2 separate regions of the Homo sapiens genome follow, and region 1 is linked to region 2. Evidence: fine-mapped expression QTL. A gene starts in region 2. The other region holds a variant in brackets. All regions are shown on one strand. Distances are from middle to middle. Region 1 overlaps SLC2A11 (solute carrier family 2 member 11). Region 2 holds the start of SLC2A11 (solute carrier family 2 member 11).

Evidence for each region.
Region 1: its variant is fine-mapped to the expression of SLC2A11 in nasal epithelium (TOPMed, PIP above 0.99).

What each region holds. Positions count from the first base shown.
Region 1 is chr22:23,874,902-23,890,712 of GRCh38, forward strand. It overlaps SLC2A11 (solute carrier family 2 member 11), which reads left to right. Exons shown (of 12, transcript NM_001024939.4): 4 at 216-340; 5 at 2,141-2,270; 6 at 2,820-2,968; 7 at 7,558-7,745; 8 at 7,858-7,968; 9 at 8,871-8,972; 10 at 9,048-9,123; 11 at 9,401-9,528; 12 at 9,748-11,411. The coding sequence ends at 9,948. It also overlaps the pseudogene RN7SL268P. Among named protein-coding and RNA genes, the nearest start is that of MIF, 12 kb to the right of the region's middle. RefSeq lists an enhancer at 13,461-13,755. The variant C/T (reference allele first, on the strand shown) is at 7,580.
Region 2 is chr22:23,851,529-23,867,339 of GRCh38, forward strand. It overlaps SLC2A11 (solute carrier family 2 member 11), which reads left to right and starts at 6,347. Exons shown (of 12, transcript NM_001024939.4): 1 at 6,347-6,501; 2 at 10,576-10,674. The coding sequence starts at 6,472.

The DNA.
Region 1 (15,811 bases), 23 kb after region 2:
TTAAAAATTATGTGTTACAACAGACGTGTAAGTGTAGGAGCTCTCATCTCATTTGACAGCAAGGATACCAGGACTCAAAGTAGTTAATGGCATACTACATACATTTGTGTGTGTGTCTAATTAAGGCTTGTTACAGTTGCAAAGAGTGGTCCCCAGGGATGGTCCCGCTGGACTGAATCACAGCCTCTCTTTCTGTGTGTTTCACTTCCCCCAAGGAAGAAGTCCCTCCTGGTGAATAACATCTTTGTGGTGTCAGCAGCAATCCTGTTTGGATTCAGCCGCAAAGCAGGCTCCTTTGAGATGATCATGCTGGGAAGACTGCTCGTGGGAGTCAATGCAGGTATGGGGTGGGGGCTTCTCATCCTGCCTCTCTATGCCTATTAATTAATAAATTCATTAATTCCTTTTATTTCATTTCTTCCTTCATTTCCTCCCTTTATTCATTCATTTATTTTTTATTTATGCCTACCTTTGTCACAAAAGGATGTAGTATAGTTTATCTTAAAGGGCTCATATAACTAGATATTTAAAGTAGGTACAGAACAATGGAAAAGTTGTGTAGGGGTGGGGGAATAAGCATCTCCAAACTTAACACTAATACAGGTCCCATGTTTGAGTAACACTCTAAGCCATGAGCTTCCTGGTAGCCAACGTGTAAAGGGATATAGGATGAGTTTTCTGATCTTCTCTCAGAAGCAGAATGGCCTGTTAGGTACTCCTCGATTTCTGGGGCTTTTCATGTGAGAGAGCAGAATTTTGAGCACATCCACCTGGGTTTTTAGGGGCTCCAACCAACAAGTCATCTCTTGACGCCCTACTGTTTATACAGCCCAGTGGTGATGTTATCTATATGATGCTATCTATATTAGTTATCTATTTGTGTGAAACAAATAACCCCAAAATTAAGTGACTTAAAATAATCAACATTTATAATCTCACAGTTTCTGTGGGCCAGGAACCCAGGAATGTCTTAGGTAGGTGGCTCTGGCTTGGGGTCTCTGACGGGGCTGTGCTCAAGCTGTCAGGGCTGCAGACATCAGAAGGGTTGGCTGGGGCTGGAGGATCCACTTCCAAGATGCTCCCTCACGTGCCATTGGCAGGAGGTCTCAGCTGCCCACTTTGGGGGGCTCTCCACAGAGCTGCTTGAGGATCTTCACAACATGGCAGCTGGCTTCTTCCAGAGTGATCTGAGGGGGTGAGGAGGGGAGGGAGAGAGAGGGAGACAGGGAGACAGAGAGAGGGCATGCACAAGGAGAAGTCCAGGTGCTTTTTATGTCCTAATTCCAGAGGTCATACACCATTATTCTGCTCATTAGAAGTGAGTTACTAAGAGTAGCCCACGATCCAGGGGAAAGGAACCAGGTCAGACTTTGTCTTCATGTCCCAAGTACCCATCAGAGAAGGAATCCCCAGCTAAATGTTTGTAGGAAGAGCAGGGGCACCTCCGAGACTCCTTGGCAATCAGCATAGCTGCCTTCCTTCCAGTTATCTTTGCCCAACTCGTAGATAGAGGGGCAGGACCTTGATGGGAGAACCCCTAGGTCAGGGAGGGCATACTGCATTCCCAGGGGCGTGACACCACAACACAGTGGCCTCTTAGCTTTTGCCATTTGTCACCCTCTGGGAGGGCGCTGGGGTGCTCTCCAGCTCTCTGTTTTCCTGAGGGCAGTGTAGGTGCCAGGGTCTTCCCTGGGGGAGCCAGGGTGAGGTGAGAGCAGCTGTAGTGATCAATGAAGGAATTGACATGAGTGCTGGGACAGCTGGTAGGCATCCAGGATGTGGTCCTACCTTCCTCCTCCCACCCCCCCGCACAGCCCCGTCAGAGTCCTTCACACTCGGGTCCCAGTGATGGGACCTAGGAAGAGCCCATGAACATGTGGTACTGTGGCCAGGGACCAGGATGGGAGCGGATCTGAGAAAGCCCTCCCTCAGAAGTTCTGAAGAGTAGAGTTGGGATCCTGTTGGCCCTTCATCAGGTGAAGCAGAACCCCTGAGTGTGGGGGGTGAGGGATCAGCCCTCAGTGCCAGGATCCAGTTGAGTGGCTGGACAGTGCTGAGTGGGGCAGGGGAGACAGGCTGGGTGTCGTGGAGTGGGGGTCCCAGCTGGTGGCTGACGTGCCTCTGCTGTGCACACGTCCAGGTGTGAGCATGAACATCCAGCCCATGTACCTGGGGGAGAGCGCCCCTAAGGAGCTCCGAGGAGCTGTGGCCATGAGCTCAGCCATCTTTACGGCTCTGGGGATCGTGATGGGACAGGTGGTCGGACTCAGGTAAGCACCCCTCCCCCACATGCATTGAGTATTTCGGAGATACCAGTAAAAGCGTTTCTTCACCTAAATGTCTCCCCTACCCACTAGTAGATTAAAGCATTATTGCTTTGCATGAAGGCATCGAATCCTCTATCCACATCTCTGCTGCCAATTCACGAAATGGGTATCAGTCAACACACTGCAATGTGAATCACCTTTTCCCATCCTCTCCAGGTCAGGGAGCAAAGAACAGGTCTTCACAGAGGAGAGGGTGAAGATTTGGGCTTTCAAAGACAAACGTGTTCCAGTCATTCCAGAAAAAAGAGGAGAAGGCAGAGCCTGGACCCTTGGGAAGAGGAGTTGCTAGGGATGAGGTGGGGCAGTGGCCCTGTCCTCTCTTGGTCCCAACCTGGGTGGGAGGGATCTTGATGTTCAGACCCAGACTTGGATAGGAAGAGGCACGGGGCAATTGCAGACTCCCTGCAGGGAGGTGTGTAGGTGGGCAGGAGAGCAGGGTGGTAGGACTCTGGCAAAGAGGCATCTGGCCTGGCCTCTCCTCTGCCTCCTTAGGGAGCTCCTAGGTGGCCCTCAGGCCTGGCCCCTGCTGCTGGCCAGCTGCCTGGTGCCCGGGGCGCTCCAGCTCGCCTCCCTGCCTCTGCTCCCTGAAAGCCCGCGCTACCTCCTCATTGACTGTGGAGACACCGAGGCCTGCCTGGCAGGTGAGTCTCTGTCCTTGGGCTCCCAGACTGCCCTTGACCAAGGGATGCATCTCCCCAGAGTATACGGGTCCCCATTTCATAGGTTTCATTTATCAAGGAAAAGCTATCCCTCTCTTTGTGCCTCAATTTCATGATCTGCCTATACCTGCCTTCAATCAGAACTCTATCAAGTGGTTGTCCTAACTGCCAGGCAGCAGAATGGATCAGACCTAGCCACTGTTACTCAAGAACTCCAGAGCGGTGCGGAGAAACACACGCGCACACACACGGTGAAACACCTGTGCAAGACCTCACCTACCCAGTGCCAACTGGGTGATGGTCATCTTATATCAGTTAACTTTGGCTACAGTAAGAATGCCTAAGGAACAATCGCAACATTTCTGCTTTAAAGCAACAATTATTTACTGCTTCTTTTATTCATGTACTTGCCTGGCTGGCTGCACAGCTCTGCTGATCTCAGCTGGGCTAGTTCACAGTGTGGGGCGGGGGAGGGGGGCAGTGGTGAGGTTCAGCTGCTGGTTGGCCGGTCTAGGCTGGTCTGGACTGGAGCCATTCAGCTTTGCTGCACTTTCTGTCCTCTCACTTTTGGTACCAACGAGTTAGCCTAGGAATAGCATGGTGATGGCAGAGAAACAAGAAAGCAAATCCAGTTGCATAAGCGCTTTCCAAACCTTTGGTTCCCTCGTGCCATTAACATTCCATTGGCCAAAGCGAGTCAGTCATACTGCCAAATCCCAAGTCAAGGGATGGGAAAATTGATGGCATATCCTCTCCCATCGCAAGGGCTGTGGATTTAAGGAGGGGTGAAGACCGGGGCCCATTAGTGTACTCTTCTCTGTCACCATGGCCGCAATTATTACTTATGTCTCTCCTCTGTGCAAAATGTGTTCAGTCCCATCCCAGGATCCCCCAAAGTCTCATCCAATCATGGCATCGGGCTTGAAGTCCCAGATCTTACGCCACATTAAGTCTATATGGGCCTTTTCTTGATCCAGAAACCTAGGATCTAGAAAGATGAGTCTTCTTCCCTTCCCACACTCAGCATGCAATGGTAAAAAGTAAGATGAGGTAACCAAAATTAATGCTCTCATTTCAAAAACGAGGAAGCAAGGCAGGCACAGTGCAGTCACTAATCTATAACAATTCTGAAGCGCCCCTAGGAAAATATGGCCATGTCCCCTGCCTTGGGGGTAGGGAGTATTCTTTGTTCAAGTTCCAGCTCTGTCCCCTACCCCCTATGAAGGGCACCCCAGGCCATGGTTCTTTTATTTTTTTTATTTTTTTTATCTTTTAGAGACAGGTTCTCGCTTGTCCAGGCTGGAGTGCTGTGGCTGTTCATAGGCATGACGCCATTGTTGATCAGCACGGAAGTTTTCTTCTTTTTTGTTCTTGTTTTTTTGGTTTTGTTTGGGACAGGGTCTCACTCTGTCGCCCAGGCTGGAGTGGTGTGATCTCAGCTCACTGCAACCTCCACCTCCCAGGCCCAATCAATTCTCCCACCTCAGCCTCCTGAGTAGCTGGGACTACTGGCCCGTGCCACCACGCTTGGCTAATTTTTTTTTATTATTGTATTTTTTGTAAAGATGGAGTTTCACCTCTTTGCCTGGGCAGGTCTCAAACTCCTGAGATCAAATGATCCTCCCCCCTTGGCCTCCCAAAGTGCGTGGATTATAGGCATGAGCCATTGTATCTGGCTAGCATGGGAGTTTTGAACTGTCCCATTTCCAACCTGGGCCAGTGCATTCCTCCTTAGGCAGCCTGGTGGTCCCTGCTCCTGGGATGTCACTATATTGATGCTGAACTTAGTGCAGACACCTGATCTGCCTAGCGTACTACAACCCAGAGCTCCTGGGCCCAGGCGATCCTCCTGTCTCAGCCTCCTGAGTAGCTGGGACTCTAGGCACACACCACTATGCGTGGCTCTCCATGCTTCTTGGGTCTACCCTCTGAGATGTTTTTCCTTTTCTTTCACCTTCCTTGATTCCTTCTGAAGAGGGCGTTGCACAATGTGCTGCTTTTGATGGTTGAGCAAATTTCTCAGCCTCCTTCCTGCCTATAGAGAGTTGGGGCAGGCTGGGCGCCAGCTCACGCCTGTAATCCCAGGGAGGCTGAGGCGGGCAGATCACGAGGTCAAGACATCAAGACCAGCCTGGCCAACATGGTGAAACCCCATCTCTACTAACAATACAAAAATTAGCTGGGTATGGTGGCACGTACCTGTAGTCCCAGCTACTAGGGAGGCTGAGGCAGGAGAATTGCTTGAACCCGAGAGGCGGAGGTTGCAGTGGCAGGAGAATTGCTTGAACCCGAGAGGCGGAGGTTGCAGTGAGCCAAGATTGTGCCAGTGCACACTGCACTCCAGCCTGGTGACAGAGTGAGACTCCATCTCAAAAAAAAAAAAAAAAAAAAGAAAAGAAAAGAAAACAAAGTTGGGGCACAGAAGTCTTTATATTTCAAATTGTCCTGGTCTTTTTTTTGTCCAAACTGGCAGAGCTTTTGCCAATACAACTTTCTCAAAAATGATGTGAATTTTCTATGTATTCGAGGTTTTTTCATGTGTCAACAAACCACGCTCACAATTATTTTTGAGACAGGCTTCTCTCCCAAGGCCTAATTGCTGGTATTTAGGGTATGTCAGGCTACCGTGAATCAACGCCCTCAAGCCTCCTAAATGCCCCCTTTTCTAGTTGTGAGGGTCTGTGAGGCACTGCTTTAAGCTATACCCTTGATTTGATCTTTACTATGAGTCCATGGCTTCCTGGCAGTGCTCTGGATTTGATCTTTGCTCACAGGCTGTTACTTAATTTGGGATTCTTTTGCTAGCTGGAGAGGATAGAGGCGAGAAAACATTTTTTGTTGTTGTTTTCAACTAACCCAGTGTTTCTGAAATATGCTACGTTTAATTAAATTTTGTTGCCTCTGAATTCTGCTTGCAAACTGGCCAGTTATTTTCTGAGCTAATTCTTCATGTCTTACAGCAAGCTTAGAATATGCATCTAACAGCAACCAGTTCATGCTTTCAACATTTGGAGTTTTCTTTGCTCAAGTCCATAAGTTCACTGAGCCCATTTTCTTTCTTCCGTGTTACTGCACTATATAACATAGCTTTTCATTTCTCCAGCCTCATCGCCGTCCTCTGCCTCGTCTTGGAACTGATACCATATTTCACAGGTCTTTGTTACGGTAGCACCAACTCCTGGTGCCAATTTATTGATCAGCTTTCTATTGCTGACTAATAGATGATCATAACATCTCGGTGGTAAAGAAACAAAAAAAGCAATTATTTAGCCTAAGCCTCTAAGTCCTCTGGGCTGGGCTGATCTAGGATGGTTCTGGCTGATGGCTCTGCTGATCTTGGTCATTCCTGCAACTGCAGCTCAGCTGGGCATTGGCTGGCTGATCTAGAATAGTCCCAGTGAGGGTGGCTTAGCTGGGCCCCTTTGGCTGTCCATGTCTTGTCATCCTCCTGGCTAGCCTGGAATGTTCTCATGAAGGCAGAAGAGCAAGTAGAAGTGAGCAAGGCCTCTTAAGGCTTAGGCTGGAACATGGTACGCCCTCACTGCAGCCTCATCCTATTGGCCGAGCCCAGAGCCAGGAGCAGGGATGTAGGCAGTACTTGCCCCTTTAGTGGGAGGAACTGCAAAATCACACAGCAAGCAGTGTGGGTGCAGGGAGGGGTGAAGAATTGGGTTTGATAATGTGCTGCAATAGTCATGTCCTGTCTGATATGTCCGCAGAACCCTGCGTTTCTTTCTAAAGCCTTTTTTCATCCATGGTGGCAACACCGCAACAGCCCTGAGAAATGTCAGGGCAAGGAAGATCATCTCCATCTGACCAGGGAGGCAAACAGAGACAGAGAGATTGAGAGAGACAGAGGCAGAGAGAGAGAAACACACACACACACAGACAGACACAGAGACAGAGAGATTGAGAGAGACAGAGGCAGAGAGAGAGAGAAACACACACACACACAGACACAGAGACAGAGAGATTGAGAGAGACAGAGGCAGAGAGAGAGAAACACACACACACACAGACACAGAGACAGAGAGATTGAGAGAGACAGAGGCAGAGAGAGAGAGAAACACACACACACACACACACACAGAGACAGAGAGATTGAGAGAGACAGAGGCAGAGAGAGAGAGAAACACACACACAGACACAGAGACAGAGAGATTGAGAGGCAGAGAGAGAAACACACACACACACAGAGACACACACAGAGACAGAGAGATTGAGAAAGACAGGCAGAGAGAGAGAGAAACACACACACACAGACACAGAGACAGAGAGATTGAGAGAGACAGAGGCAGAGAGAGAGAGAAACACACACACACACACAGACACAGAGACAGAGAGATTGAGAGGCAGAGAGAGAAACACACACACACACAGAGACACACACAGAGACAGAGAGATTGAGAGAGACAGAGGCAGAGAGAGAGACACACACACACACAGACAGACTCAGAGACAGAGAGTGAGCCAAGAAGGAAAGGAATGGTGGGATGGAGGGGGGCGTCCCTGTAGGGGGACCAAAGAGGGGCTTGGGGACGGGGAGCTCAGTACCCTCCTCCCTGGCTCAGCACTACGGCGGCTCCGGGGCTC[C/T]GGGGACTTGGCAGGGGAGCTGGAGGAGCTGGAGGAGGAGCGCGCTGCCTGCCAGGGCTGCCGTGCCCGGCGCCCATGGGAGCTGTTCCAGCATCGGGCCCTGAGGAGACAGGTGACAAGCCTCGTGGTTCTGGGCAGTGCCATGGAGCTCTGCGGGAATGACTCGGTGAGACCCCTGCCCCGCCGCACACCCTGGGCCCCGGGGGCTTGGTGTTGCAGGCCGCTGGGAGCCATGGGAGGTGGAAGGGAGCCCAGGCCTGAAAGCCACCCTCTCCCAGGTGTACGCCTACGCCTCCTCCGTGTTCCGGAAGGCAGGAGTGCCGGAAGCGAAGATCCAGTACGCGATCATCGGGACTGGGAGCTGCGAGCTGCTCACGGCGGTTGTTAGTGTGAGTCTGGAGGGTGCCCTTCCTCCACCAGCCCTGTGGGGAGGGACCCCCAGGTCCTCTGCATTAAACCAGTTTACACTCCAGCTTATGGTGTTAAAATGCAGTGAGGGGCCAGGTGCGGTGGCTCATGCCTGTAAGCCCAGCACTTTGGGAGGCCGAGGTGGGTGGATCACAAGGTCAGGAGTTCGAGACCAGCCTGGCCAACACAGTGAAACCCCCGTCTCTACTAAAAAATACAAAAAATTATCCCGGCGTGGTGGCGGGCGCCTGTAATCCCAGGTACTTGGGAGGCTGAGGCAGGAGAATCGCATGAACCCAGTAGGTGGAGGTTGCAGTGAGCCGAGATGGTGCCATTGCACTCCAGCCCAGGCAATAGTGCTGAGGTGGGATCAGGAGTTGGAGACCAGCCTGGGCAACATGGTGAAACCCCGTCTCTACAAAAAATACAAAAATTAGCCAGGCGTGGTGGTCTTCGCCTGTAGTGCTAGCTACTGGCGAGGCTGAGGTGGGAGGATCACTTGAGCCTAGGAGGTTGAGACTGCAGTAAACCGAGATTGTGCCACTGCACTCCAGCGTGGGCTGGACCAGTGAGACCCTGTCTCAGCTCAGTGAGACCAGTAAGACCCTGTCTCAATCAATCAATCAATGCAGTGAGTTAGAGAGCATCTATTGAGCATCTACGGTTTGCGGGTCACTTCCAGCACCATTTTGAGATGCGGAAACTGGCTGAAGTTGGGTGATTGATTGACCAAGTTCCTTTGGGAAATTAATAAAGTCACACTGAAGCAATAAACTACCCTCACCTCCACCACCAGCTTTCTCAGGAGACCCCTTCCCATTGCCTGCCCCAGACCTCAGGGACCATGGCTGGGTGTGTGGGTCTGTGCTTTCTGCCTTTGCAGTGTGTGGTAATCGAGAGGGTGGGTCGGCGCGTGCTGCTCATCGGTGGGTACAGCCTGATGACCTGCTGGGGGAGCATCTTCACTGTGGCCCTGTGCCTGCAGGTAGCTGGGGTGGATGAGGGCTGGGGGGTCCAGGCCGGGCTGACTTCCACCTCACCCCCGCCCCGTCCACGGCAGAGCTCCTTCCCCTGGACACTCTACCTGGCCATGGCCTGCATCTTTGCCTTCATCCTCAGCTTTGGCATTGGCCCTGGTGAGTGGGCCCAAGGGGCTCTGGGCATCCATCATCACATAGAAGGAGTGATGGGTGCCTGGGTGCACAGTGGGTGGGTGTGAATGCAATGTCCCCTGCAGGCCCTCAGAGACCACCTCATGCCGGGGCTTCTGGGAGGGAATGGCAGGAGGAGAGCACTGAGGGGCCCCCCATACAGACTGGGCCTGGGCTCCCACTCCCATGTCTGGGCTGGGGTCGGGGAGAGGCAGGCAGGGAACCCTGGCCAGCAGCCCCCTGTCCCTGCCCCTCCTTCTAGCCGGAGTGACGGGGATCCTGGCCACAGAGCTGTTTGACCAGATGGCCAGGCCTGCTGCCTGCATGGTCTGCGGGGCGCTCATGTGGATCATGCTCATCCTGGTCGGCCTGGGATTTCCCTTTATCATGGTAGGCCCGCCCCTCCCGCTGGGGGCCCTGCCTTAGGCTGTGTCCCTGTCATCCTGAGAACCCCAGGGGGAGGCTTCCATCCAGGGAGACTGAGACTGAAAGGGAGGGGTCTTAGGGGAGCAAAGAGGGGGGCAAATGCCTCCTCACGACCTGTCATGGGCCTTCTGTTTAGGGGTTGATGGAGACACACCAGGTCTTGGGGTCTTTTTTAATCCGCAGGAGGCCTTGTCCCACTTCCTCTATGTCCCTTTCCTTGGTGTCTGTGTCTGTGGGGCCATCTACACTGGCCTGTTCCTTCCTGAGACCAAAGGCAAGACCTTCCAAGAGATCTCCAAGGAATTACACAGACTCAACTTCCCCAGGCGGGCCCAGGGCCCCACGTGGAGGAGCCTGGAGGTTATCCAGTCAACAGAACTCTAGTCCCAAAGGGGTGGCCAGAGCCAAAGCCAGCTACTGTCCTGTCCTCTGCTTCCTGCCAGGGCCCTGGTCCTCACTCCCTCCTGCATTCCTCATTTAAGGAGTGTTTATTGAGCACCCTTTGTGTGCAGACATGGCTCCAGGTGCTTAGCAATCAATGGTGAGCGTGGTATTCCAGGCTAAAGGTAATTAACTGACAGAAAATCAGTAACAACATAATTACAGGCTGGTTGTGGCAGCTCATGACTGTAATCCCAGCACTTTGGGAGGCCAAGGTGGGAGGATCAATTGAGGCCAGAGTTTGAAACCAGCCTAGGTAACATAGTGAGACCCCCTATCTCTACAAAAAATTTTAAACATTAGCTGGGCATGGTGGTATGTGCTAACAGCTCTAGCTACTCAGGAGGCTGAGGCAGCAGGATCACTTGAGTCCAAGAGTTCAAGGTAGCAGTAAGCTACAATCACACCACTGCATGCCAGACTGGGTGACAGAGGGAGACTTCATCTCTTTAAAACATAATAATAATAATTACAGACTCAGGAAATGCAGTGAAAGAAAAATACAGGTTGGCCAGGTGAGGTGGCTGATGCCTGTAATCCCAGCACTTTGGGAGGCCAAGATGGGAAGATTGCTTTGAGACCAGAAGTTTGAGACCAGCCTGGGCCACATAGTAAGATCCTGTTTCTACCAAAAAAAAAAAAAAAAAAAATTAGCTGGGTGTGGTGGTACATGCCTGTGGTCCCAGCTACTCAGGAGGCTGAAATGGGAGGATCACTTGAGCCTGGGAGGTCGAGGCTGCAGTGAGTCCTAATTGAGCCACTGCACTCCAGCCTGGACAACAGAAAGAGACCATGTTTCAAAAAAAATAAATACAGGTTGTAGTGGGTATGGGTATGCATACCAGGAGGCCCGACCTCGTCTGAGAGGGGAGTGGTCAGAAAAGAATTTTCTGAGGAATTGATGTTTTTAATCAACTTTATTGAGGTATAATTTATACATAACCAACTGCATCCATTTTAAGTATATATTTGGCGAGTTTTGAGTTCTAAGTATAGTTTTGGTGAGTGTATACACTTGGGAAACACCACCGTGATCAAGATGGAACCTTTACCCTACCCCAAGGCACCCACATGCCCATTTGCTATCAGTAACCCACCCCAGTCCCAGACCTGGGGAACCACTGACCTGCTTTCTGCCTCAATTGGTCAGATTTGCCTTTTTTCAGAATCTGAAGTCATTCCGTACTGTATGTACACATTTGTGTCTGGCTTGGCTCCAGATAAAGTTTTTGGGATTCATGAATGTTGTTGCACGTATTAGGAGAGACTCCTTTGTATTGCTGAGTAGTATTCCCCTCTGTGGTTAGACCATGATTTATTTATCCATCTACCTGTTGGTGAACATTTTGGCTGTTTCTAATTCTTGGCCATCATGAATAAAACTGCTGTGAATGTTCCTACAATAATAATTGTCTAAACATATGTTTTTATTTCTTTTGTGTCTTAGTCCGTCGGGCTGCTATAACTAAGAACCACAGCCTGGGTGGCTTATAAACAACAGAAATTTATTTTTCATGGTTCTGGAGGCTGGGAAGTCCAAGATCAAGGTGCCAGTGGATTCAGTGTCTGTTGAGGGCCCATGTCTTGATTCATAGATGGCGGTCTTCTTGCTGTGTTCTCCTAGACATGGCAGAAGGGGCAAGGGAGCTCTCTGGGGTCTCTTTTATAAGGGCACCAATCCCATTCATGCAGGCTCTGCCCTCATGACCTAATCACCTCCGAGGAGGCCCAAAGGCCCTACCTCCAAGTACCATCATATGAGGGATTAGGTTTCAAGGTATGAACCTGGGGAGGACATAAACAGTCAGTCTAGCTTTTTGGGTAAATGAATTGCTGGGCTTAATAATAAATGTATATTTAACTGTATAAAAATTGTTTTCCAAAGTGGTTGATTATATTGTTTCACATTCTCATTAATAATGTATGAGTTCTGGATACTCCAGATCCTCATCAGCACTTGGTATTGTCAGTCTCTTCAATTTAGCCATTCTAGTGAGTGTGTAGTGGTATCTTGTCATTTAATTGTGGTATTTCCCTAATGACTAATAATGTTTGACATCTTTTCATGTGCTCAGTATGGCCATTTGTGGGTTTTCTTTTATGAATAATTTGTTCAAATATTTTGTCTACTTTTTTTTGTTGTTGTTGTTGAGACAGGGTTCTCTGTCGCCCAGGCTGGAGGGCAGTGGAATGAACTCAGCTCATTGCAACCTCTGCCTCCTGGACTCAAGCGATCCTCCCACCTCAGCCCCCCAAGTAGGTGGGACCACAGGCGTGAGCCACCATGCCCTGCTAATTTTTGTATTTTTGGTAGAGATGGGATTTTGCCATGTTGGCCAGGCAAGTTTCAAACTCCTGACATCAAGTGATCCACCCACCTTGGCTTCCCAAAGTGCTGGGATTACAGGCATGAGCCACCGCACCCAGCCCTTATCTGCTATTTTTATCAGGTTGGTTGTCATTATTTTTTAAATGTGGGCATTTTTTATACATTCTGGAAGCTAGTACTTTGTTAAATATATAGTATTGTAAATATTTTCCTGCAGTCCGTAGCTTGCCTTTTTTATTTTCTTAATGCTACCTAAGAGCAGAATTTTTTTTTTTTTTTTTTTTTTGGAGATGGAATCTCGCTCTGTCACCCAGGCTGGAGTGCAGTGGCGCGATCTCGGCTCACTGCAGCCCTGCCTCCTGGGTTTAAGCAATTCTCCTGCCTCAACCTCCTGAGTAGCTGGGACTACAGGCACGTGCTGCCATGCTCTGCTCATTTTTTTGTATTTTTAGTAGAGACGGGGTTTCACCATGTTGGCCAGGATGGTCTTGATCTCCTGACCTCGTGACCTGCTCGCCTCGGCCTCCCAAAGTGCTGGGATTACAGGCGTGAGCCACCTGGCCCGGCCGAACAGAAATTTTTATTTTGGTAAAGTTTGATTTATCAGTTTTTGGTTTTTGTGATTCATGCTTTTTGTGCCATAAGATATCTTTGCCTATCCCAATGTTGCAAAGATTTTCTTCCAAATGTTGGATAGTTTTAGCTTTTACACTTATGTTGCTGATGATGAATTTCAAGTTAATTTTTGGGTATGGTGTGAGGGGCTGAGGTTCCTTTTTTTTGGGTGGGTGGGGGGAACAGGGTCTCACTGTGTGTTGCCTAGACTGGAGTGCAAGTGACGTGATCTCAGCTCACTGCAACCTCTACCTTCCAGACTCAAGCAATCCTCCCACCTCAGCCTCCTAAGTAGCTGGGACTACAGATGCGTGCCACCATGCCTGGCTAATTTTTTTTTTTTTTTTTTTGAGATGGAGTCTTGCTCTTTCGCCCAGGCAGGACTGCAGTGGCACTATCTCGGCTCACTGCAACCTCTGCCTCCCGGGTTCACGCCATTCTCTTGCCTCAGCCTCCCGAGTAGCTGGGACTGCAGGCGCCCGCCACCGCGCCCGGCTAGCCTGGCTAATTTTTGTTTTGTTTTGTTTTATTGTTTTTCTTTGTTTTTTTGTAGAGACAGGCTTTTGCCATGTTGTTCAGACTGTTCCTGAACTCATGGACTCAAGCCGTTCGTTTGCCAAAGTGCTGGGATTACAGGAATGAGTCACCATGACTGGCCCTTTTTTCTTTTCTTTCTTTTTTTTTGAAATGGCTATCTGGTCGTACCAGTACCATTTGCTTTAAAAAAAGCCATTTTTTCTTCATTATTTTACTTTGGTGCCTAAATAAAGAAAATCAGTGGACTATTGTTGTATAAGAAAGAATTTGGCTTTTGTCAGGAAACAGTGACTGTTAAAGAGAAGTGGTGGGGCTGTGGGTTCTCTGGGGAGAGAGAAATCTCTGGGTCAGGGTGTCAGTAGAGGTCTCAGGGAGAAGGTGACTCTGAGCTGGCTTCCTAAGGATAGGCTCAGCTGGGGGCCTTTTAAAAGCTAGAGCCTTGGTGGCATGTGCCTGTAGTCCCAGCTACTTGGGAGGCTGAGGTGGGAGGATCTCTGGAGCCCAAGAGTTGGAGATTACAGTGAGCTATGATTGCACCAGTGCACTCCAGCCTGGGCCACAGAGCGAGGCCTTGTTTCTACCAAAAAAAGAAAAAAAAAAAAAAAAAAGCTGGAGCCACTGGGAGGCAGCAGCGTTGCAGGATGGGAATGAAGCTACCGTGTCCAGTCACTGTGGAGTCTTCAGGAGGCAGGGGCAGCCCTCCCAGGAGCCCTGTGTGTGGTCACTCTGCCCCTCTGTGTCCATCCACCCTGATCCTGCCTCTGTTGACCTGCTCCCCAGCTTACCTTTGTGCTCCAAATGGCTTCCCTGGCCGCCCTGGCTGCAGACCTCCAACGTGGAGTCATGAGTAAGAATCCATTGACAAGCACCCCTGAGATCCTGGGGTACGTGCCACGAGCAGAGCAGGCATCAGGTGACACCCAGGTCCCGGCCTGCCTCGGACACACATGGTGCCCCGGTCCCCAGCCTGAGCCCTGCCCTCTCACTCACCACCCACCCAGCCGGAATTGGCTCTGGCCACTCTGGGAGGGCGGGGTGGGGGTTGCAAGTCCCTTGTTACGCAGGGAGCCCCTCAGTTAGGGAGAGGAGACAGGGTCTCAGGACAGGACCTTGAAGACAAGGAAGGGCAGTGCAGAGAGGGGTGAGAGAGCCAGACTGGGTTTCTAGGGGGTGGTCCAGGGTGGGAGCTGACCTGCCTCTGCTGAGACTGCGTTCCAGGTGTGAGCATTGATGTCTAGCCCATGTAGCTGGAGAGGAGTCACAGCCATGCTCCCCAGCTCCAGCCCACCTCCCCAGACCCCAGACCCAGTGTGGCCTCTCCCCACCTCCCAGAGCATGTGGTCAAGCCCCTCTCCTAGCCCGAATCCCTCCCTCATTTGCTAATTACCAGGACCTACATGTCCCAGCTTCCCAGGGCCAGGGGACAGGGCCCCGCCCATCTGGCAGGCTCAAGTTGGCTGCCTGGCTGCCGGGATCCAGGCGGCGCTCACAAGGATCTGGGCTTGCACAGCCTCCAAAGGGCTGTTGTCCATTCTCTTGTATTTGTTCTCATCCTCTCCTTTCTTGGACCCTCTGAGTCTCTGGTTCCCTCTTGTTGGGACCCAGATCACTCTGTGCCTCAGCTGAATCATTTTTCCCTTCAGTTTACACATATCCACCTAGGGTCCACTACATCCAGAGGCTTCCGCCTCAGTCCTTGTCCTCAGGCTGTGCCCAGGGTTGTGAGGATGGCGGTGGTCCTTACCTTGCAAAACAGTCTCCCAGTGACAACAATGTTCAGGGATAACATCTATGGAGGGCTTTCTATGTATCAGGACCATTCTGAGTATCTTCCAAGTGTTAGCTCCTTTAATCCTGGAAAGGACCCCATGAAATTAGTACTTTTATTACCCCTGTTGTACATATGAGAGACTGAGTAAAAGCCGGTGGCTTGTCCAGGGTCACACAGCTAACTGGAATGGCCAGGAGTAGACCTGGTGACCATGGACCCCAGACCTTGATCACTGCACACGCTGCGTCTGGGACCTCGCCTGGTACCTGAGGTCCGTGGCGCGCTGGTGCTGATCATTCAGAGTGCTCATGGGAAGTGTAGTCTAGAGTCTGTGTGCTTCCTGATCTCCTTGATCTCCATTTTATTGAGGAGGCCTTTAGGCCACCCGAGGGGTCCAGAGTGACCCTGTGGATTAGCAGTGGAGCTCAGCTTGAGCCAGCGCTCTTCAGGGGTCGTGTTCTGCCCCCATTCTCTGGTTCATTCTGCAGGTAGCAGGGAATCATTGAAGATTAGAGAGAATCAAACACCTGGAGAGAGATGACTCTGCCCGGGGA
Region 2 (15,811 bases):
TCCTAAAGTGGTGGGATTACAGGCATGAGCCACCACACCTAGTTCCAACTGATATTTTCATCAATAGTACGTGGGTGTTCCAGCTGATCAACACCACCACTTGGTATTGCCAGAATTAAGCTGTTAGTCTGTTGAGTGGGAACCAATATGCTGATGTGGATTTAATTTGCATTTCCTGATTACTAATGTAGCTATCTTTTAATTAGGTTTTTTGGTCATTTCAGTTTCCTCTTCTGTAAATTCCTTGTTCATATCTTTTTTTTTTTTGAGACGGAGTTTCACTCTGTCGCCCAGGTTGGAGTGTAGTGGCACGATCTCGGCTCACTGCAAGTTCTGCCTCCTGGGCTCAAGTGATCCTCATGCCTCAGCCTCCTGAGTAGCTGGGACTACAGGCCAAACCACCATGCCAAGCTAATTTTTTGTATTTTTTGGTAGAGATGGGGTTTAATTTTTTGTATTTTTGGTAGAGACGGGGTTTTACCATGTTTCCCAGGCTGGTCTCGAACTCCTGAGATCAAGCGATCTGCCCCGCCTTGGCCTCCCAAGTGCTGAGATTATAGGCATGAGCCACCGTGTCAAGCCTGTTTGCCCATTTTCTTTTCCTTATTGGTATGTGGGTATTCTATATACATTCTGAATACTAATACTGTGTTGGTCATATGTTGTAGTTACCTTCTTCTACTTGGTAGCTTTAGGTTTCAACTTTTTAAAAAATGCGTATTTTTTTATTTAAAAAATCGAGATGTGGTCTCACTATGTTGTCAGGGCTGGTCTCGAACTCTTGAACTCAAGTGATCCTCCCACTTCGGCCTCCCAAAGTGCTAGGATCGCAGGCTGGAGCCACCACACCTGGCCAGGTTTCACCTTTTCATGGCGTCTTTTGTTTGTTTATTTGAGACAGGGTCTTACTCTGTTGCCCCAGTTGGAGTGCAGTGCTGTGATCACCGATTACTGCAGCCTCAACTTCCCTGGCTCAGGTAATCCTCCCTGAGCCTCAGTCTCCTGGGTAGCTGGGACCACAGGCTCAAGCCATCATGCCCGGCTAATTTTTTGTAATTTTTGTAGAGACGGGGTTTTGCCATGCTGCCCGGGCTGTTCTCAAACTCCTGGGCTCAAGCAATCCACCCACCGTGGCCTCCCAAGGTACTTGGATTACAGGCGTAAACCACTGTGCCTGGCCCATTAATGGTGTCTTTTAACACACAGATTTTTAATTTTAATAAGGTTAAATCCTCATAAGAAATCTGCGTGGTTTATCCTTGTTTAACCCGGGGTTATAAAAGTATTATATATTTCCTTTTTATTTTTATTTTTTGAGATGGAGTTTCACTCTGTCATCTAGGCTGGAGTACAGTGGCGCAATCTTGGCTCACTGCAACCTCTGTCTCCTGGGTTCAGGTGACTCTCCTGCCTCAGCCTCCTGAGTAGCTGGGATTACAGGTGCCCGCCACCACACCCAGCTAATTTTTGTATTTTTAGTAGAGACGGGGTTTCGCCATGTTGGCCAGGCTGGTCTGGAACTCCTGACCTCAGGTGATCCACCTGCCTTGGCCTCCCAAAGTGCTCGGATTACAGGCATTAGCCACCTCGCCCGGCCTTTACATTTTTTTTTATAGAGATGGGGGTCTGCCCATGTTGCCCAGGCTGGTCTTGAACTTATGCGCTCAAGTGATCCTCCTGCCTCAGTCTCCCAAAGTGCTGGGATTACAGGTGGGAGCTACTGCGTCCAGCCTAAAATGTTTGAAGTTAGGTTTTTGCATTAGGTTTGTGTGTACCTGGAATGACTTTTGTATATGAAGTGAGACAGAGGTCCACACTTTTTCCCCATATCATCAACTGTCCTAGCGCCATTTATTAGCCCGTCACTTCCCACTTATTTATTATTATTATTTTTTGAGACGGAGTCTCTCTGTCGCCCAGACGGGAGTGCAGTGGCACGACCTTGGCTCACTGCAAGCTCCGCCTCCCGGGTTCACGCCATTCTCTCGCCTCAGCCTCCCGAGTAGCTGGGACTACAGGAGCGTGCCGCCACGCCCGGCTAATTTTTTGTATTTTTAATAGAGACAGGGTTTCACCGTGTTAGCCAGGATGGTCTCGATCTCCTGACCTCGTGATCTGCCTGCCTCGGCCTCCCAAAGTGCTGGGATTACAGGCGTGAGCCACCGCACCCGGCCACTTCCCACTTATTTCTTAAGGGGGAAAAGGCAATGGTTGTTTTGAAAAAAAATTAACCTGCTCTCCCTCTCCCTCTCCCTCTCCCTCTCCCTCTCCCTCCCCCTCCCCCTCCCTCTCCCTCTCCCTCTCCCTCTCCCTCCACGGTCTCCCTCTGATGCCGAGCCAAGGCTGGACGGTACTGCTGCCATCTCGGCTCACTGCAACCTCCCTGCCTGATTCTCCTGCCTCAGCCTGCCGAGTGCCTGCGATTGCAGGCGCGCACCGCCACGCCTGACTGGTTTTCGTTTTTTTTTTGGTGGAGACGGGGTTTCGCTGTGTTGGCCGGGCTGGTCTCCAGCTCCTAGCCGCGAGTGATCCGCCAGCCTCGGCCTCCCGAGGTGCCGGGATTGCAGATGGAGTCTCGTTCACTCAGTGCTCAATGGTGCCCAGGCTGGAGTGCAGTGGCGTGATCTCGGCTCGCTGCAACCACCTCCCAGCCGCCTGCCTTGGCCTCCCGGAGAGCCGAGATTGCAGCCTCTGCCCGGCCGCCACCCCGTATGGGAAGTGAGGAGCGTCTCTGCTTGGCCACCCATCGTCTGGGATGTGAGGAGCCCCTCTGCCTGGCTGCCCAGTCTGGAAAGTGAGGAGCGTCTCTGCCCGGCCGCCATCCCATCTGGGAAGCGAGGAGCGCCTCTTCCCCGCCGCCATCCCATCTAGGAAGTGAGGAGCGTCTCTGCCCGGCCGCCCATCGTCTGAGATGTGGGGAGCACCTCTGCCCCGCCGCCCTGTCTGGGATGTGAGGAGCGCCTCTGCTGGGCCGCAGCCCTGTCTGGGAGGTGGGGAGCGTCTCTGCCCGGCTGCTCCGTCTGAGAAGTGAGGAAACCCTCTGCCTGGCAACCGCCCCGTCTGAGAAGTGAGGAGCCCCTCCGTCCGGCAACCACCCCGTCTGGGAAGTGAGGAGCGTCTCCGCCCAGCAGCCACCCCGTCCGGGAGGGAGGTGGGGGGGGTCAGCCCCCCGCCCGGCCAGCCGCCCCGTCCTGGAGGTGAGGGGCTCCTCTGCCCGGCCGCCCCTACTGGGAAGTGAGGAGCCCCTCTGCCCGGCCAGACGCCCCGTCCAGGAGGGAGGTGGGGGGGTCAGCCCCCCGCCCGGCCAGCCGCCCAGTCCGGGAGGGAGGTGGGGGGTCAGCCCCCCGCCCGGCCAGCCGCCCCGTCTGGGAGGGAGGTGGGGGGATCAGCCCCCCGCCTGGCCAGCCGCCCCATCCGGGAGGTGAGGGGCGCCTCTGCCCGGCCGCCCCTACTGGGAAGTGAGGAGCCCCTCTGCCCGGCCAGCCGCCCCGCCCGGGAGGGAGGTGGGGGGGTCATCCCCCCACCTGGCCAGCCGCCCCATCCGGGAGGGAGGTGGGGGGGTCAGCCCCCTGCCCGGCCAGCCGCCCCGTCCGGGAGGGGGGAGGGGGGGTCAGCCCCCTGCCCGGCCAGCCGCCCCGTCCGGGAGGGAGGTGGGGGGGGTCAGCCCCCCGCCTGGCCAGCCGCCCCGTCCGGGAGGGAGGTGGGGGGATCAGCCCCCCGCCTGGCCAGTCGCCCCGTCCGGGAGGTGAGGGGCGCCTCTGCCCGGCCGCCCCTACTGGAAAGTGAGGAGCCCCTCTGCCCGGCCAGCCGCCCCGTCCGGGAGGGAGGCGGGGTGGGGGGGGGGGGGTCGGCCAGCCGCCCCGTCCGGGAGGGAGGTGGGGGGGGTCAGCCCCCCTTCCGGCCGGCCGCCCCGTCCGGGAGGTGAGGGGCGCCTCTGCCCGGCCGCCCCTACTGGGAAGTGAGGACCCCTCTGCCCGGCCAGCCGCCCCGTCCGGGAGGGAGGTGGGGGGGACAGCCCCCCGCCCAGCCAGCCGCCCTATCCAGGAGGTGAGGGGCGCCTCTGCCCGGCCGTCCCTACTGGGAAGTGAGGAGCCCCTCTGCCTGGCCAGCCGCCCCGTCCGGGAGGGTGGTGGGGGGGTCAGCCCCCCGCCCGGCCAGCCGCCCCATCCGGGAGGTGAGGGGCGCTTCTGCCCGGCCGCCCCTACTGGGAAGTGAGGAGCCCCTCTGCCCGGCCACGACCCCGTCTGGGAGGTGTGCCCAGCGGCTCATTGGGGATGGGCCATGATGACAATGGCGGTTTTGTGGAATAGAAAGGCGGGAAGGGTGGGGAAAAAATTGAGAAATCGGATGGTTGCCGGGTCTCTGTGGATAGAAGTAGACATGGGAGACTTTTCATTTTGTTCTGTACTAAGAAAAATTCTTCTGCCTTGGGATCCTGTTGATCTGTGACCTTATCCCCAACCCTGTGCTCTCTGAAACATGTGCTGTGTCCACTCAGGGTTAAATGGATTAAGGGCGGTGCAAGATGTGCTTTGTTAAACAGATGCTTGAAGGCAGCATGCTCGTTAAGAGTCATCACCACTCCCTAATCTTAAGTACCCAGGGACACAAACACTGCGGAAGGCCAAGGCCGCAGGGTCCTCTGCCTAGGAAAACCAGAGACCTTTGTTCACTTGTTTATCTGCTGACCTTCCCTCCACTATTGTCCTATGACCCTGCCAAATCCCCCTCTGCGAGAAACACCCAAGAATGATCAATAAAAAAAAAATAAATAAATTAAAAAAAAAAAAGAAAAAAATTAACCTATCAAAATAAAATATCAGCAGTTGAAACTAACAATGTATTAATAACAATAATATTATGACCAAGTTGCGTCTACCCCAAGAATTCAAGAATGGTTTACCATTAGAAAGTTTATTGATGTAACTGATCTCATTAACAGATTAAAGGAGAATACCCATATGATCATCTTAATAGATGCACGAAAAGCATGCAATAAAATACCTATTTATTATAACTGCTAATATTTTGTGTTTTTCCTTAAAAATGCAGTGTTTTTAGGAATTAAAGTTCAGAGCAGCAAAAGTCAAACAAAAACCAAGTCTGAGCAATAGAGCTACTACAGTGCCCATCACAGTGTCTGCTCAGGTGACTTCTTAAGGTCATGTCCAGCTCTATGTTTCTGTGACCACAAATAGCATCTTTGGCAAGTCTAGTTTCAGTTGGTCTTTGTCCAGCTCCTGGATTCCTCCATGCAGGGCCTGAGAAGCCCTGAGGGATAAAAGATTAATCCGGTTCAGTGGACTCTGTGGTTCCTCAACTCCAAGTGCCCCCAGCATAAGTCGGACCTGCCTCTCACGCAATGGATCCCCTGGCGGCAACCCGAGACCGGTTCTCCTACCCGCATTCCGCCAAGTCTCTCGCTCTGCCCAGGACGCACAGATGAGAGCGCTCCGAAGACTGGTGGGTCTATCTTTCGGTCTTTCCTAATTTTCCCGTCCTCTGGGGAAAGGTCGGGGATACCTGAACCAAAGTGTGTGTGTGTGGGGGGGGGGGGGTGTAGGTGGGGCGTGCATAGATGTGCACAACCAAGGGCTTGGCCCTCCGGAGAACGCCCAGGGGCAGTGGCCTCCGAGGTTCTGGCGGCCGGCAGTGGCGACCGGCGCAGGGAATCGCGCAGGGTTGCGGCTGAGGTCAGACCAGCGAGAGACAGAGACCCGCAGACATTTAGTCCAGAGACTGTAGCAAAGGAGGGGGACGAGGGGCCAGAGCCGGAATTTCGGGGGAGGACTTGGGAGCGCGGCGACCAGAGTCGCTTGCTGGCACTTGCGAGGGCGAATGCAGGGGCTTGGCCGAGATGACCTTGGACCAGAGCTCCCTTCCGGCCTGCAGAGATGAGCTTGGGGCTTAGCCGAGTAAGGAGTGAGCGGCTTTTCAGCCTCAGTGCTGCGGCAGAGGCGGATGGAGGATGAACTGGAGCCGTCCTTACGGCCTCGGACGCAGGTGAGCTCCCAGCGGCGGCGACAAACCCCGCGGCGGTGACCCCAAACCCCCCCCCCGCGGCGGCGACTCCCCCCCAACACGCTGGGGCGAACTCCCCAGCACCCCCAGCCCTTCTTAAAAACGCTGAGTCCGCGCATGCGCCTCAGGCGCCCTCCGCGACACTCTAGCGGCTCTGCGCTTCACTGCGCCTGAGCTTGAGTCTCAGGCCTTAGTCCCGGCCATCGTTTAGCGTTGCGCGAACCCTCAGCTGGTGCGGCCGCTCTCAATACCCACTGCGCTTGCGCTACAGCTTCGTCTCGACGGGTTTGCTCCTCTCAAACGCTCACTGCGCGTGCGCTAGCGCCTCTTTCACCACTGGGCGCTGCGCGCTGCCCTTCCCTCCGCGCACAGGCTGCCGGCTCACCGCTTGCTAATGGCAGCCGGGGTCTCCCTGGGACAGCAAGACCTCCGCTCAGGCCCCTCTTTCGAATGCTCCACGCCCTCCTGCGATCTAGAATGGTATGAATTCTCATACTTGCCCAGACCAGGCGTTTCAGATGAGGGATTGCGGACCTGAGTGAACTGCGCAGGTGCAGCCACCTGGGAGGCTTAACTAAGTCGTCAAATGTTCAAAAATATCGTGCTTGTATGTACAGTGGCGTTAGGTGCTAGGCTCAGATGTGCATAGGCAGGTGTTTACGCCCAGGGTCGGCCTGTGGGCCAGAGCAAGGTTGCTGGACCCTGGCATCCCAGCCCCCAGAGATGCTAAATCCTCTGCCGATCAGCCCTGACCTCAGAGGCAGTAAGCCCTCCGAGCGCTGCAATCCTGACTGCTCGCCCCCTCCCGAGACTGTTTCCCACCCCCGCCTCTTTCCTCCTCATGCTCCCTCAGCTCTGACCTGACGTCCTGCCTCACAGAGGGAAAGGGCGCAGCCAGAGGAGAGCGCCCGCACTGCACTGCCCACCGCTTCTAGGGGTTCCTTCCCAATCTGGACTGATTTCTTTAGGTATTTGCATGGCACATTCCCTCACCTCCTTTGTCTTGATTTGCACTTGTATTCCTTGACAGCCTTATTTAAAATAGCACCAACTAAGGTGGGAGGATCGCCCAGGAGTTCGAAGCTGCAGGGATCTAATAGGATCTCACCACTGCACTCCAGCGTGGGCGACGTAGCGAGACCTTGTCTCTAAAAAATAAAAATAAAATAAAATAAAATAAAATAGCACCACCTGGTCCAAACACTTCCTACGCCCCTTCACTGCTTTAAGTCTCTGTAGCACCAGCTGATGTACTATATATTTTGCTTGTTCATTTTGCGATTGCTTGTCTTTCTCTGCTGGAAGGAAAGCTCTGACAGCTCATGGATTTTGTCTGTTGTTCACTGCTGTATCCCAACACCTAGAACAGTAGGATTATTGACCATAATAGGGAGGCAATAAATCTTTGTTTGCTGAATTAATGGTCCCTATCGTAGCTAATGTCTGAATGCTTACCATGACCAGGCACGGTATAGGCAATCTCCATGCATGATCTCATTGAATTCAACGATTTCCTGTAGTCTTAGAGACCTGTCAATATCTCCTGCTACATGAGCTCAGCTGCCATCAAGCACTGTGTTCGCTGCTTCCTTCACATCTGCTGTCTTAAGGGAGCTCTCACTTCCATGCGGCCCCCGTGGAGCTGTAATTTGGCCTCAATGGGACCAGATGCCAGGTTTCTCACCTGGCTTCTTCCTAAGGCTTCCAGCCTTAGAGAAAGTTACTTAGGCCTTATTGGAACTATGGGCAGCCAGGGCCCCTGTCACCAACCTGTCTCCAGACCTATGGCAAGGCCTTCAGCAGGATTCTGCCCTCCAGAGCCACTTCCTCTGCTCCCCCAGCCTCCAGTGCAGTATCTCACTGAATGGTGAAAGCACAGCTGTCTCTTTCCCAGCTGTATCTTGCCCCCCAGCACACTTCCTGGCTGAGATAAACATTCAGCATTTTTTTTTTTTTGAGATGGAGTCTCACTCTGTTGCCCAGGCAGGAGGGCAGTGGCGCGATCTGGGCTTACTGCAACCTCCGCCTCCCTCCCGGATTCAAGCAATTCTGCCTCAGCCTTCTGAGTAGCTGGGATTACAGGTGCCCACCACCAAGCCCGGCTAATTTTTGTATTTTTAGTAGAGACAGGGTTTTACCATGTTGGCCAGGCTGGTCTCGAACTCCTGACCTCAAGTGGTCTGCCCACCTCGGCCTCCCAAAGTGCAGGGATTGCAGGTGTGGGCCACGACATCCGGCCAACACTCAGTATTTGACTAATAAATGAATAAATAGTCCGTAGGTTCTGGAAACTTCAGAAAACCTTAGCCAAACATCCTTCTGTCATGAAAATTGTATCAAAGTTTTCAAAAATAATACATTTAATTCTACAGAACAATTTGCCAGAACAAGAAAGGCAGTATTTTTTGGGGGAAGATATCAACGATTCAATTTTTGTAAAGTCAACTACTTTGCAAATATCTAGGAAAATACCTGAGGGAAGGAGTTAATTGTTGTGCCTTTGGAGGAGTGGAGAACTTTCAGTATATACTGAATTTTCAAAAATCTTAACAAACGTGTCATTTTGTAATTAAAAATCACAAAAGAGTGGGCTGGGTATGGTGGCTCACGCCTGTAATCCTACCACTTTGGGAGGCCAAGGCGAGTGTATCGCTTGAGCTCAGGAGTTTGAAACCAGCCTGGGCAATATGGTGAAATCCCATCTCTACAAAAAAATTAGCCCAGCATGATGGTGTGTGCCTGTAGTCCCAGCTACTTGGGGGGCTGAGGTGGGAGGATCGCTTGAGCCCAGGAGGTTGAGGCTGCAGTGAATCAAGATTGCGACACTGCACTCCAGCCTGGGTGACAAAATGAGACCTTGTCTCAAAAAACAAAACAGAAAATCACCAAAGGAGAAAGATAAATACTTCTGTGAATCCCTAAGACGACCTCAACTACAGGTCGGGTGCGGTGGCTCACGTCTGTAATCTCAGCAATTTGGAGGCTGAGGTGGGCAGATCACTTGAGGTCAGGAGTCTCTACTAAAAATACAAAAATTAGCTGGGTGTGGTGGTGCATGCCTGCAATCCCAGCTACTCGGGAGGCTGAGGCAGGAGAATCGCTTGAACTGGGAGGCGGAGATTGCAGTGAGCCAAGATTGCGCCATTGCACTCCAGCCTGGGCGGCAGAGCAAAACTCCGTCTCTTTTTTTTTTTTGAGACGGAGTCTCACTCAACCTCCACCTCCTGGGTTCAAGCAGTTCTCTGCCTCAGCCTCCCGAGTAGCTGGGATTACAGACGCCTGCCAACACGCCCAGCTAATTTTTTTTTTTTTTTGAGACGGAGTCTCGCTCTGTCGCCCAGGCTGGAGTGCAGTGGCGCTATCTCGGCTCACTGCTAGCTCCGCCTCCCGGGTTCACACCATTCTCCTGCCTCAGCCTCCCCAGTAGCTGGGTCTACAGGTGCCCGCCACCACGCCTGGCTAATTTTTTGTATTTTTAGTAGAGGCGGGATTTCACCGTGTTAGCCAGGATGGTCTCAATCTCCTGACCTCGTGATCCGCCCGCCTCGGCCTCCCAAAGTGCTGGGATTACAGGCATGAGCCACTGCGCCCGGCCAATTTTTGTGTTTTTAGTAGAGATGGGGTTTCACCATCTTGGCCAGGTTGGTCTTAAACTTCTGACATTGTGATCCACCCGCCTCGGCCTCCCAAAGTGCTGGGATTACAGGTGTGAGCCACTGCGCCAGGCCAAGACTCAGTCTCAAAAAAAAAAAAAAAAAAAAAAAAAGAAAATCCCAACTATCCCAACTACAAAGGATGAGGCATCAGGGATGCCTTGGGGAATTCTCCCTCCATCTCTAAGGGTGTTTCACTGTCCTTTTGTGTACCAAGTGTGCATGACTCATGGGTACCCAGCCTAGAAGTAGGCTTCATTATCTGCAGGTCCAGGTAAGGAAGTCACTTAGGATGAGAAAGGAAGGGGAGAGCTGGGATAGGGACCAGGCACCTGGGCCATTTATGCTGCCTCTCTACTACTCATATGTCCCCAAGTCCTTGCACCTGCAGGTCCATGTGGCATCTTCTCTTAGCCTCATTGCAGAACATGCTGGTGGGAGGTAAGAGAGGTGGCTCAGCCCAGATTCCTGGAGCCTGGCCACTCTGTTGGAGAAGGTTTTCCTGGGGCAAGTCAGAGGCTCCTGTCCTGCTGGAGGCAGAGCCTTACTCTACTGGGGCCCCAGCTCAGGGGACTGTCTTCCCCAAACACAGCAGACGTGCTCAGGGGCAGCCCAACAAGGAGGGATGGGAACCGCTCTCCAGCTCAGGGAAATGTTGGGGCTATGGGTGGGGTGAGGGTAAAGTGGGGTCCTGGACTCAGAACAGGAGGCTTGGGTTCCTCTGCTACCTGCCAGCCATGTGACCCAGGTAACTCCTCTCTGTGCCTCACTTTCCTCATCTGCAAAGTGGAGACATCACTGCCTGATTCAAATAAATTGCAATGCTGTGATTGGCAGCTCTGGTCCAGGGAGGGGGTGGAGGCTGTTGTTGGTCACTCTGTGTTCTCTCCTCTCTCCTCAGATTCAGGGCAGGATCCTGCTCCTGACCATCTGCGCTGCCGGCATTGGTGGGACTTTTCAGTTTGGCTATAACCTCTCTATCATCAATGCCCCGACCTTGGTATGTATCCTCTCTGGGTGGAGACTGTCCCTGTCTGAGTGGGTACTGGCTAACAGCTGCCCACTGAGGGGCTTCAGCCAGGCATCCACTAGGTGGCACTTTCTGCCACAAGTTTGTCTCCATTGGGTTGGCCCACAGGTTCCTGCAGGTTCAAACTGAGCATACATCTTCCCCAAACCTGCATGTCCTCCTGAGTCCCTAATCTCAGCAGATGACTCCATCTTCCACCTAGTGATGGGGGGTCAGCCTTGACTCTTCTCTTCATCTCTTGGACACTAAGTCCTTCCTAACTACCTCTGGAATCCAGCCACTTCTCCCCATGTTTCCACCACATTCCCAGTTCTGGCCCAGCCTCCTCACTGGCCTCCTTGCCTTCAGCCTCTCCCCACCTTGATCTCTTCAAGTCACTCCCCTGCTCAGAAATTTTTTTTTTTTTTCGAGATGGAGTTTCGCTCTTGTTGCCCAGGCTGGAGTGCAATGGCATGATCTTGGCTCACCACAACCTCCGCCTACCAGGTTCAAGCGATTCTCCTGCCTCAGCCTCCCGAGTAGCTGGGATTGCAGGCATGTGCCACCATGCCCAGCTAATTTTGTATTTTTAGTAGAGACGGGGTTTCTCCCTGTTGGTCAGGCTGGTCTCAAACTCCCAACCTCATGTGATCCGCCTGCCTCAGCCTCCCAAAGTACTGGGATTATAGGCATGAGACACCGTGCCCGGTCTCATCAATGTTATTTATAAAGTAGCCAGTGGAGATTAAGTTTCCGTGTTCAGCGGTGAAGCCTTGAGCTATCACGGCCTCAGCTTCATGGAAAAAGGAAGAAGAAATTTTAAAAAGCAAGCAGGGCAGGCAGACCTGACCAAATGAACCCCTCGGTTTCACTGTCTCACACCTTCGCTCCCCCAACCCTGATACCAAAGCAAGTTAAGTATAGTTCCTCAAATACCTATGACACAGCCCTTCCTCTAAGCCTCCTTCCACGGAGGGGCCCTCTCTCTTCCACCTGTAGAAGCCCACCCCAGATACCACCACCTTCTTGAAACCTTTTTGCCTCTCCAGCCCTTGGTGCAGGCTGTCCTCTCTTAGGCTGTGTGAGGGCTGTTTTGTGTCCATCTCCTCTCTCCTGCTGGTTTGCTCTCAGCATCTGAGTCATCTTTGAATCTCTGGCCCTTGATGGTAGCCTGGCCCGAGCCAATGTTCTGTGAGTGTCTGTGGAAAGGATAGGTCTTTCAGCCCCAGTGATAGAAGCCCACCTCTAACTTGCTTAAGTAAGAAGGGCAAGTACCTAATCATGTAACTGGGAATGATGGGATGTGGGGCTTCACACAGCACTGAGGGAGAGCTGCAGGAACCAGGCCCCAGGACAGAACTGTGGCTGTCCTGCCCCTGTTTTTTCTCTCTCTCTGGTTTTTTTTTTTTTTTTTTTTTTTTTTGGGACAGAGTCTTGCTCTCTCACCCAGGCTGGAGTGCAGTGGTGCAATTTCGGTTCACTGCAACCTCCGCCCCGTCCCGAGCTCAGGCGCTCAAGCGATCCTCCTACCTCAGCCTCCCAAATAATTGGGACCACAGGCATGTACAACAAAGCCCAGCTATTTTATTTGTATTTTTTAGTAGAGATGGGGTCTCATCATGTTGCCCAGGCTGGTCTCAAACTCCTGAGCTGAAGTGGTCCGCCCACCTCGGCCTCTTGAAGTTCTAGGATTACAGGCATGAGCCACCGTGCCCAGCTTGGCCTTGTTTTCATACCCAGATGGGGAGCTGCTGTCACCAGATTCACTTCCTGCCAGCTGAGAACTCACCCCACCAACAAAAGTCTTCCAGGTTAGCTCATGTAGAAAGGCAGGGAAGAGCCTGAGGGGCTGGTTTGGATTACATGTCCACTCCCAGACCAGTAATGTGGTCAGGAGGCTGGGATGCTCAGATTGGCCAGATCTGGGCCAGGTGATCACCTTTATGGGGAACCAAGGGCTGTAGTTGACCATCGAGAGAACTTCCTCCAAAGTAATATTTGCTAGCAGAAGATAGAGGTGGGGATAGAAAGAATGATAGCAGCCCAGCCTCTTAAAGAAAGGATGAGAGTTTAGAAAGGGAGATCTGAGCTGGCTGCGTTGGTTTATTTTTTATTTATTTATTTTCTGAGACAGAGTTTTGCTCTTGTTGCCCAAGCTGGAGTGCGATGGCGTGATCTTGGCTCACTGCAACCTCCACCTCCTGGGTTCAAGCGATTCTGCCTCAGCCTCCCGAGTAGCTGGGATTACAGGCGCCCACCACCACGCCTGGCTAATTTTTTGTATTTGTAGTAGAAATGGGGTTTCACCATGTTAGCCAGGCTGGTCTCAAACTCCTGACCTCAGGCGATCCGCCTGCCTTGGACTCCCAAAGTGCTGGGATTACAGGGGTGATGCATTGGTTTATTTATTCATTAATTCATCAAGCATTTGAGCACCCACTTCAGTGCACACTCAGACTAGAGAGGGGTCCATCCCAGGCCGGGCAGGGCACTCTCAGACCTTACCTCCCACAGCCATCACCAGCCCCTACGAAGGAGACTTTCCTAGGCTCAGAGGCTTCCCCTACCCTGCTGAATGGTGTTAAGTTCTAATTGTTAAAGAAAAAGTTATTCAGGCTGGGCGTGGTGGCTCATGCCTGTAATCCCAGCACTTTGAGAGGCTGAGGCAGGCGGATCATTTGAGGTCAGGAGTTTGAGACCAGCCTGGCCAACATGATTAAACCCTGTCTCCACTAAAAATAGAAATATTAGCTGGGCATGGTGGCATGTGCCGTGATCCCAGCTCCTCCAGAGGCTGAGGCAGGAAAATTGCTTGAACCCAGGAAGCGGAAGTTGCAGTGAGCTGAGATCTCGCCACTGTGCTCCAGCCTGGGCGACAGGGAGACTCCCTCTCAAAAAAAAAAAAAAAAAAACCAGAAAACAAAACTGGGCGCAGTGGCTCACGCCTGTAATCCCAGCACTTTGGGAGTCTGAGGCAGGTGGATCCCCTGAGGTCGGGAGTTCAAGACCAGCGTGACCAACATGGAGAAACCCCGTCTCTACTAAAAATACAAAATTAACCAAGCATGGTGGCGCATGCCTATAATCGCAGCTACTTGGGAGGCTGAGGCAGGAGAATTGCTTGAACCTGGGAAGCAGAGGTTGCAGTGAGCCAAGATTGCATCATTGCACTCCAGCCTGGGCAACAAGAGCAAAACTCCATCTCAAAAACAAAAACAAAAAACTATTCAATGACACTTGTCAAAGCACAGTAATGAAGACTTTATTCAAGAGGTGGCAAGCACTAGTTGTAGGGACCGTGGCAATGGGGTCCTGCCCTGAGGCAGAAAGGTTGGACTCAACTTCAAATACAGCAATGGGCAAGTGAGAACTGATAGCCAAGGAGCAGAGTGGGGTCAGCGGGTGCACAATGACTAAGAGGATCATCAGGCATTTGTGGGGGATTCTGGTTAAATTGTCCTAACAGGATTCTTGTTGAGGGCAGGCCAGGGTAACTAGACATCATGGAGGATGGCAGAGGATAAGGAGGCCGATTAGATTTTGAGAGTGATCAGATGTGGAGGATGAGGATTCTAGCTAAACCAACTTAGCACGATACTTGCTAAAATTGAACAAGGCAGAGATGAACACAGAAGTCCAAAAGTTGAGACCTAGTTGAAAAAGAGCTCAGAAGGCCGGGTGCAGTGGTCCATGCTTCTAATCCGAACACTTTGAGAGGCCGAGGTGGGAGGATTGCTTGAGCCCCGGAGTTTGAGACCAGCCTAAGCAACACAGTGAGACCCAGTATCTACAAAAAAGTAAAAAAAATGCAACAGGGCACAATGGCATGGGCCTGTAGTTGTAGGGATCTGTGAGGCTGAGGTTGGAGGATGGCTCGAGCCCAGGAGTTCGAGGCTACAGTGAGCTATGATCATGCCACTGCACTCTAGCCTGGACAACAGAGGGAGACACTATCTTTAAAAAAAAAAAAAGAAAGAAAAAAGGAAAAAAGAGCTTAGAAAACTCTGAGGAGAATCTTTGTCAATGGTCACTCTTGAGGAGTTCCACCCAATGTCAGGGGAGGCTGGCCCTGGTCCCAGCTCCTGTGGACAGTTCCTCCCCCGAGAGGCAGCTGGTGGGCACTAGGCTGACAGTCATTGCCCTGAGCTGGGCAGGGGAGAGCTGGCCCAGCACCTGAACCCGCTGCTCTCCCTTGTGTTCTGTTCTGTCAGGAGACCTGCAAATGACATTTCATCTCTAACCAAGAGAAGGGTGTCCATGTCTTCCTCATGTCTTTCCTAACCATGTGGCTTCCCTTCACTCACCTGAGGTTTGGAGTCTGGGGAGTCCAAACTACCTGGTACAACTCTGACCTGTGGCTAACGCTGTGAGCAAGTCATTTCACCTCTCCCTGAGCCTAATCCCCAGTCTTGACAGTGACCAAGGCTGGGCATGGTTGCTCATGTCTGTAATCCCGGTGCTTTGGGAGGCTGAAGCAGGAGGATTGCTTGAGGCCAGGAATTGGAGAACAGCCTGGGCAACATAGTGAGACCCTGTCTCTACAAAAAAATTTAAAAATTAGCCTGGCATGCTGGTATGTGCCTGTTAGTTTCAGCTACTCAGGAGGCTGAGGCAGGAGGGTCGCTTGAGCCCAGGAGCTGGAGGCTGCTCTGAGCTATGACCAGTGGATGGAGAGATTACTGAAATTGGAAGGAAAGAGACATAGGTCCCCTTGAGAGGATCGCAGCCAGGCTGAGGCAACCTCCCAGGGAGGGAGCCAGGGAACAGACACTCCTACTTCTCTCTCCTGCCTCCTGATGTCCTGCTGGTGCTCACCATTGGCCAAGTTGGTCAGTAAGGGAGCCTACTGATGTGGGCTGCACAGGTGGCTCCCTGGGGCAAAAGCAGGGTGGGAGGGGACTGCAGTGGATTCCTCGGGTATGGTATAATAAGAAATATAATAGATCTTTGTCCTTGGTTCCAGGCACAGAGCTCCTAAAACTCTTGGAATTTTTTTTTTTTCAGACGTAGTTTTGCTCTTGTCACTGGAGTGCAATGGTGCAATCTTGGCTCACTGCAACCTCCACCTCCCGGGTTCAAGCAATTCTTCTGCCTCAGCCTCCCAAGTAGCTGGGATTACAGGTGCCTG